2 linked regions of the Homo sapiens genome follow. The protein of the gene in region 1 purifies or fractionates together with the protein of each later gene. This does not show direct contact. Each region holds a gene or a part of one and is shown on either strand. Other genes may lie near its edges.

Region 1 (3,820 bases):
TGGCCCCTGAGCAGCTCCTGTCTTGGTGTCTTCCTTTAATGAAGGTTGTCTGTGTGATGCAATAGCCATCTATATGATGGTGCCCAGTATGGAGATCTGTACCTTGTCTGGTTACTACATAGAAGGCTTTTCAGGGTCTTGCTCTGTTAACCCAGGTTGCTGTCAGGCTCTTGAGCTCAAGTGATCCTCCTGCTTTAGCCTCCCCAGTAGCTGAGACTATAGGCTCCTGCCACCATGCCCTGCCTCAAACATTGTTCTTTTTGTTTGTTTGTTTGAGACAGTCTCACTCTGTCGCCCAGACTGGAGTGCAGTGGCATGATCTCGGCTCACTGCAACTTCCGCTTCTCGGGTTCAAGCAGTTCTCTTGCCTCAGCCTCCCGAGTAGTTGGGACTACAGGCATGCTCCACCACGCCCGACTAATTTTTGTTTTATTAGTAGAAACAGGGTTTCGCCATGTTGGTCGGGCTGGTCTTGAACTCCTGACCTCAAGTGATCCGCCCGCTTCAGCCTCCCAAAGTACTGGGATTACAAGAGTGAGCCACTGCGCCAGGCCTCAAACATCAATGTTGATACCTGTTTTCAAAGTACTGGAAGAAGGTAGGGGTAAGGACAAGGAACCGGGAGGAAGGCTGGCTGGGAAGCTATCTTAGGTTTTAAGAGCTGTGTTGACCAGAGACTCCATCCACTTTCTGCCCTGAGTATCTTATTGGCAGGTTTTCTTATAGTCAGTGGAAATTTTCGGTCTTAGTTACAGCTGCTTGCATAATTTCTTTCATTGTTTATATATTTTCTAGATTATATTTTCTTCCCCTCCCCACTAGTTGCTGTTGGTTCTTATTTTATTCTAATCTTTCTTCCCAAAACACCCCACCCCCAACCAAATCTTCCCTTCTTAACATAAATGATGAGCAACGAGGATGGGTGAGAATGAGGAATTGGATTGCAAACTGTAGAGTATGTGCCGCCTTCTGGTTTGATGTGGGTGCCTAAGGTATATGGCCATATTCCATATCCTGTAAGGAAATCCAGAAATCTAGCCCAGCCTTGTGTATGGTGGGATTCATGGAGAAATGAAAGCCATGAGGATTCAGGGGCAGGAAGAGCAGAAGTAAATGTACATTTTTTTATTCCTAGAGATTCTTTTGTTCCTTGTGTGTGAAAGCAGTGGAGGGGACAGGCAGGCACTTAAAGAACCTCTTATCAAGCAACATTTATATTGTAAAACATGGCTTAGAGGATTTTGTGTTATTTTTAGTCCAGAGGTTTGTTTTTAATGATTTGCCAGAAATTTTTTAAGGAAAGGAAAGGTTCCAAGTTACTCTATAGACTATACTGTACAAAGATTTCTAATTTTAAATTTAGAATAAGATGACAAAGCAAACCGTTTCCTTCTTGGATGCTTTCTCGGAAGGCAGTCAGGTGGTGCTAGAGTAGCTAGACAGACAGTTTTTCCTAGTTTTTGCTACAGTTCTTACAATCGTTTCTTTTCACCCTCTACTCTTCAACTGTGTCTTACTTTTCCTCTTGTATATTTTCTTTCTGTCTTGTTACTGGATTGTTTCCTCTCATAGGTTCTCTTTTCAGTTATGCGCACAAAAGATACAGTACAAAAAGTCCAGTGCATTTTATTCTTGAAAGTATATAGAACTTCAGAATGAAAACACCACTTTCTCACTGCACTTCCATTTTATCGTGCCATTGCCATTTCTCATCTGAGCCATCCTACCCTTGAGCTTATTCTCTGAGGACAGAAATGGGAAGAAGGCCCCAGAAGCAGTGGGTGGGGGTGGGAGGAGGCTGCTGTGCTGGTGAGTGGTGGGGTGTTGGCTCTCAGAAAACAGGAGCATGGACAGTGTCAGCTTGTTGCCATGACAGTGAGGTTATTAACATCCACTTAGACTGTCTTCAGTGGTCTCTTACCCAGGCATGATAGTTTTGGCTTAGATGGCTACCTGAAGAGATTCAGTATAATGCTACCAGTTTTTATTGAACATTTATTCTGTTCAAAACATTCCCAAAGGCAACAGAAGATACAAATAAATCTCTGCCCATGTAAAGGTGTGGGGGGCATTAGAAGGCGTTCTCTTCGGTGTAATGAAGTAATGAGAGAAGAAAAAGTAGTTTGAAGCTATGGAGTAAGGGACTTTGAGTATCCCAGGCTCAAAAAGTTGGGACTTGAACAGTACGGGGGTGCTGCTGAAAACGTTTGAGGGAGGTAATGACATGATCGAAGCTATACTTGAGAAAGGTGAATCTGATAAAGTATGAGTGAAAAAGAGACTGAAGGTCTAGAAATTAGATTGAGGCTAATGACAAAATCCACATAAATAGGAGGACTTGAACGAAGGGGCACTTAGAAGAGGACAGGAGATAGTAAAAGGCATTCAATGATGAGAGCACACACTACAGGGGAGCATGAGGGAGGTTGGAAAAGATAATGAAAGGATTACCGAGCTTCACTGACGATGTGTTTGAAATGAGCAGGAATCTTGTAGTGATCCTAATCCGTGGTTTTCTGGAGCATTTCACAGCCTAGGAACATACAAGGGGGGCATCTCCCTGGAATGTAAATTGACTAAGAGGAATTCAGTAATGGTCAAATGAATGCAGAATTTTAGAGTCTTGCTTAGTATTCTCACCACATTTCGTTTAATCTACTCATACTCTTTTTCTCTTACTGCTGACACTAGATGGAAAAACTCTTAATTAAAAGTATTTCACAAAATGTGCTCGTTTTCAGTCATTCCGTTTCCACTCCAGCCTGTTGTGTTGTTTTTTTGAAATAATAATTTAAAGTAATTTTCCTTTTGCAGGATGGCATAGTCAATCCAACAATAAGAAAAGATTTGAAAACTGGACCGAAATTCTACTGCTGTCCAATTGAAGGCTGCCCCAGAGGCCCTGAGAGACCGTTTTCTCAGTTTTCTCTCGTAAAACAGGTACTCTCTACTCTGAGGATGAGATACAGATGCTAAAAACCTATTGTGCATTCTGATTACTTAGCAGACATAACTACAGAATTGAGTAGACAGCTGCTTGTGAGGGGAGATGCCTGCGTGTCTCCCAGTTGGTATAAACCTGAGTATGCTGTTACACAAGTGGAGGGAAAAGCGGCACGGTCTGGAGGGAATATGTCTAGAACTGAGTTAAAATACAGAGAGAGAGAGTAAACCAGTTCAGCAAAGAATGAGAAAATGTTTGCTCGCAGATCTCCTGTGTGAGTCTGCATACCTCCAAGGGCCCAGCGCAAAGGCACAAAGGAACTGTTCTCCCAGGGGAATAAGAACCTGCAGAATCCAGGAAAAGAAGAGTTTTGGAAGCCGCAATCTTAAGAGGAGGGAGGGCCCCAGTGACTGGGACAAGAGGTGATTCAGAACTGGAAGAGATTGGCATCTGAAATGTTCCCCTGAGGGTCTGCTGGAGGGCGTCCTGAGAAGAGCATTGTAAAGACATTTTTTTCCTGCCTGCAGCACTTACAGATCAGAGTGTAAATGCTGGAGACCATAGATGTTTCCAAAACAATCTCCTCACTTTTCACAAAGCAAAAGCAACAAGAAGAGGCATATATATAATTAACTGCGATGTTCCTGCTTTTACATTCTTTTGACTTGGACTGCTGTATTTTATGTTATTTATATTAATAGTGTAAAATCATTATTAATTTGGGTGTATGATGGTTTCTGAAATGTTTTGACCAGTTGCTGTTTTTCACCTTAGTCCCTTCTGCGTTCCTCCTAGCACTTTATGAAAATGCATGCTGAGAAGAAGCACAAATGTAGTAAGTGCAGCAATTCGTACGGTACAGAATGGGACCTGAAA
Region 2 (3,820 bases), on another chromosome or scaffold:
AGATCCTTCCGTGCTGTCTCGGCTAGAGGAGGGAGAATTTTCTCTTTGGTGAGAGGTCACAGCTGTCACTCTGCTAAATCAAGACAGCCGTTCTTTACTGGGATTCCAAAGATCTTAAAGAGTCACCCAAAAAGGAATCAAAGGTGGTTAGGGACAGAGGAGAAAAGGTCAGGATTAGCCTAAGGTTTAGCTACTTTCCTGTTTTATTTATAATATTTTTGTTGTTGTTGTTTTTAAATGTCCTGTGGTATTTTTGATTGTTTCTGTGCTGCTCAGCATTCTTCCGAGGTCAAGTTGCTTTTGGTAAATAGTGATGCTGCGTGTGGTGGTTCCCATGGGTGCTGGTCTCTCTGTGTCTTACCAGCTTTTCAAACTCCATGTATGTCATCTTTTCTAGACCACTCTGGCTCACATCATAGCCAGCAACAGCAAGAAACATAGCATAAGGTTTGTGACATTATCTGCAACAAATGCCAAGACAAATGATGTGCGAGATGTCATAAAACAAGCTCAAAATGAAAAGAGCTTTTTCAAAAGGAAAACCATCCTTTTTATTGATGAGATTCATCGGTTCAATAAATCTCAGCAGGTATATTAACTTCCTTCTACCTTTTGGTCGTTGTGAACATCAAACAATATAAAGTGTGTGAGATCACTATACAAACGCTAGAGACTTACGAGCTTTGTTTACAAAGAAGCGTAGGCTTGTGAACCCATCTCCTTCAAGCCTATTTCTCCATACATTTCTTAGTGTTTTTTGATAACAAGAAAATGCTTTCTCTATCTGATAAATGAAATGGTTGGCATATCCCTGAGCTATACGTATCAGAAAAGCACCTTTGAATCAAATTTCCAGTTTTAGGAATTTTTAATCTAAATACTAGGAGTCATTGTGAACAGTAAAATAATGATTTTAAGGTCATTATTTTAATGGGTTTTTAAAAATTACTTTAACAGTATTTTTATTTTGAAAATTAAACAATCGGTATTTTCTGTAACTCCAGGCTCTGTCTTCAAGGTGAATGTTGGAAGAGCTAATGATTACTGTTTATTTAAATGGGTTTCTGAAATAAAAGGACACAAGCTATTTTTATAAACAAAGCCACTTAGGGATTTAAAAAAAAATAAACATTAAAATTTTATTGGGCTGAGATCTGAGAGCTATACTCTAAATAAAAAAAAATTAAATTTTTAGGCATAACTTTAAAAAATTTTTTTTTGTAACTTTTTAATCATACATAGAATATTTCACAAAACTCTACTGAGCCTTTTTTGAACCTTTTTGAATAAAAAGACCCTTTTAAAGTTCTGACGAGGCGTTAGCATTCTAGGTTTCATATTGGACCACTGACTCATCTTAGTATTTTTTCCCCATAAAACAGCATAATAGGAATAATAATAATATGATTGAGTGCTTGCTGTGGAAGAAGATTCTGGAAGTGTTAATGTTTTTGTGTGTTCTTGTCTATAAATAAATAGCTGTTACATATAAGCTATGTGCCAGTTCAGCCTTTGGTAGAAGATGGTTTTCTGAGTAAAGAAATCATTTATGTTGAAACTAAGCTAGAATTCTACTTAAAGCTATTAGTCTACCAGCAAGAGATCAGGCTTGGACGGGCATTCCAGAAGATGTGTTTCAGACTTAAAAGCAAGAGTTGTACTCCCCCAAATATTGCATCTATATTCAGTGAATATAAGGCTGCTGCTATTCCTGAACTCGAAAGATAAAAATGAGGAAAAGGAAGGAAGGGATAGCCAACTTACATAGGATTCTGCAGGTGGCTGTTGACTGGAATCACTTTTTTCTGTTTTCCTCCCATGATTAGGACACTTTCCTTCCTCACGTGGAATGTGGGACGATCACTCTGATTGGGGCAACCACTGAAAACCCTTCCTTCCAGGTCAACGCTGCTCTTCTGAGCCGCTGTCGAGTGATTGTTCTTGAGAAGCTTCCAGTAGAGGCAATGGTGACTATTTTAATGCGAGCGATCAACTCCCTGGGAATCCACGTCCTAGACTCTAGCCGTCCCACTGACCCTCTGAGCCACAGCAGCAACAGCAGCTCAGAGTAAGTTGACAGTGTGCAGCGTCCTGGGGGCACACACCTCCCAGAGAGTCTCCTGGCAGGGGGCCAGAAAGGGCCGGGCGTCAGTGAGGAGAGGGTGGGGACAGAGAAGAAATGTTGATCCGCCCGTAATGAAAATAAAAGAGGAGGGAAATGTTCGATTATACCTAACAAAGTTATCCCTGCACACTTGAAGATGCATTTTCCAGCCTCTAATATGTGTTTCTATAATTCTTCAAGCTTTAACTTTGCTTTGTTGTTTTGGTTCTTGGGTGTTTGCTTTTGTGCTTAGGCTTCTATGGGAAGCCTTATTGATGATTTGAAAGGCTTTATGTCCCTCATTGAATAGAACAAATAGATAGATAAATACTTTCTAGACTTACCATACAACTCTTTTGAGCATTGTACTCATGTTTCAATTTCTTTTTAACCTGCAGTTTAGCATTTTGTTAAAAAAAAAAAATCAAGTAAAAATTAACTTGTAACCTTAAAATTATGTAATCCTTTTTGTGTAGTTGAAACTCAGTTTCATGAAAGTAAAGGAATGTTAACTGAATATGACATTATAGGCTGTCCCTATCCTTTTAGTGACCTATTTCTGCATCATGAGTACCACATGAGCTCGTTAATGCACCAAGTGTATATCATAGATAATTTGATTTCTTGGGTCAGGGGTTTTCCTTTTTTTTAATATTAGAACATATTCTTCAGATGGTATTTGTTCATACGTTGGCTGAAATACTGCCATGGAACATAATCTGGTGTGATGAGAGGCTATTGCCCACCTCCTCCTGCTGTGGACTCTGCAGCTGCTCGTGCCTGCCCTGAGGCCAAGTTCTGGAGCCACTTTTCTGTGAGGATTAAAGTACAAGGCATAGTTTAGGCTCAGGGTTTAGGTTTCACCAGGCTCTCCCTATGTGTCTGGCCCCATTTGCTCCTGTCTGAGATGGAGGGAGAATTCTGCTGTGTCTAATGAAAGCATTGAAACATTTGGCCCGTGGACCACTGGGTAGGACAGAGTGGCCTTGTTTTGGAATACCGTTGTGATGGGGATAGCCATTACATCTGTGGCCACAAGCAGTGTGTGGAACCTGTGGTATCAGCCACATGGACTCATACTCAGAAGTGCTTTATGTGGTGGGCATTTGTCAGAGCCTAAGGGGGCTGCCAGCTCCTCATATGTAGTACAGGTTGAGTATCCCAAATCTGAAATCCAAAATGCTCCCAAATCTAAAGCTTTTTGAGCACCTTCATGATGCTGTGAAAGGAAATGCTTATTGGAGCACTTCAGATTTCTGGATTTTGGGTGCTCATCTGGTAAGTATATAATGCAAATATTCTAAAATCAAAAAAATAGGAAATTCAGACCACTTCTGGTCCCAGGCACTTCAGATGTGGGATACTCATGTGTAGGTTTCCCGTAACAGAATTCTCATTACAGACGCATAGAACCACATGGTAAAGACAAATTGAAAGAAAAGGGGGGAAATCCTAACATGTTTCATGTTTCTGTGTGTTCTTTGCTCTGTGTACTGGTTATCGTAATGTATCTGCAACTTAATATTCTGCATGTGTACTTGTCTGGGGTGATTTTTATTGATTTCATGTCATCAGTTCATGAAATAGAACATGAAATCAATAATTAATATTGATGACATGAAGTCAATAATAATCAGTTGTTACTCAGATACCCTCAGGTTTTTTCACCTCTCCCCAGTCACTGCCGTGCAGGAATTTAAAGGAAATGAGAAAGGC

Evidence for each region.
Region 2: the proteins of ATMIN (region 1) and WRNIP1 purify together in Homo sapiens (affinity purification with western blotting; one study listed by BioGRID). This does not show direct contact.

What each region holds. Positions count from the first base shown.
Region 1 is NC_000016.10:81,038,542-81,042,361, forward strand, and holds part of ATMIN (ATM interactor), read left to right. Parts: exon of another isoform or gene 1-1,770; intron 1,771-2,814; coding exon 2,815-2,940; intron 2,941-3,739; coding exon 3,740-3,820. UniProt on the Homo sapiens protein: Transcription factor. Plays a crucial role in cell survival and RAD51 foci formation in response to methylating DNA damage. Involved in regulating the activity of ATM in the absence of DNA damage. May play a role in stabilizing ATM.
Region 2 is NC_000006.12:2,768,294-2,772,113, forward strand, and holds part of WRNIP1 (ATPase WRNIP1), read left to right. Parts: intron 1-397; coding exon 398-589; intron 590-1,764; coding exon of another isoform or gene 1,765-1,820; exon of another isoform or gene 1,821-1,826; coding exon 1,827-2,068; exon of another isoform or gene 2,069-2,083; intron 2,084-3,820. UniProt on the Homo sapiens protein: Functions as a modulator of initiation or reinitiation events during DNA polymerase delta-mediated DNA synthesis. In the presence of ATP, stimulation of DNA polymerase delta-mediated DNA synthesis is decreased.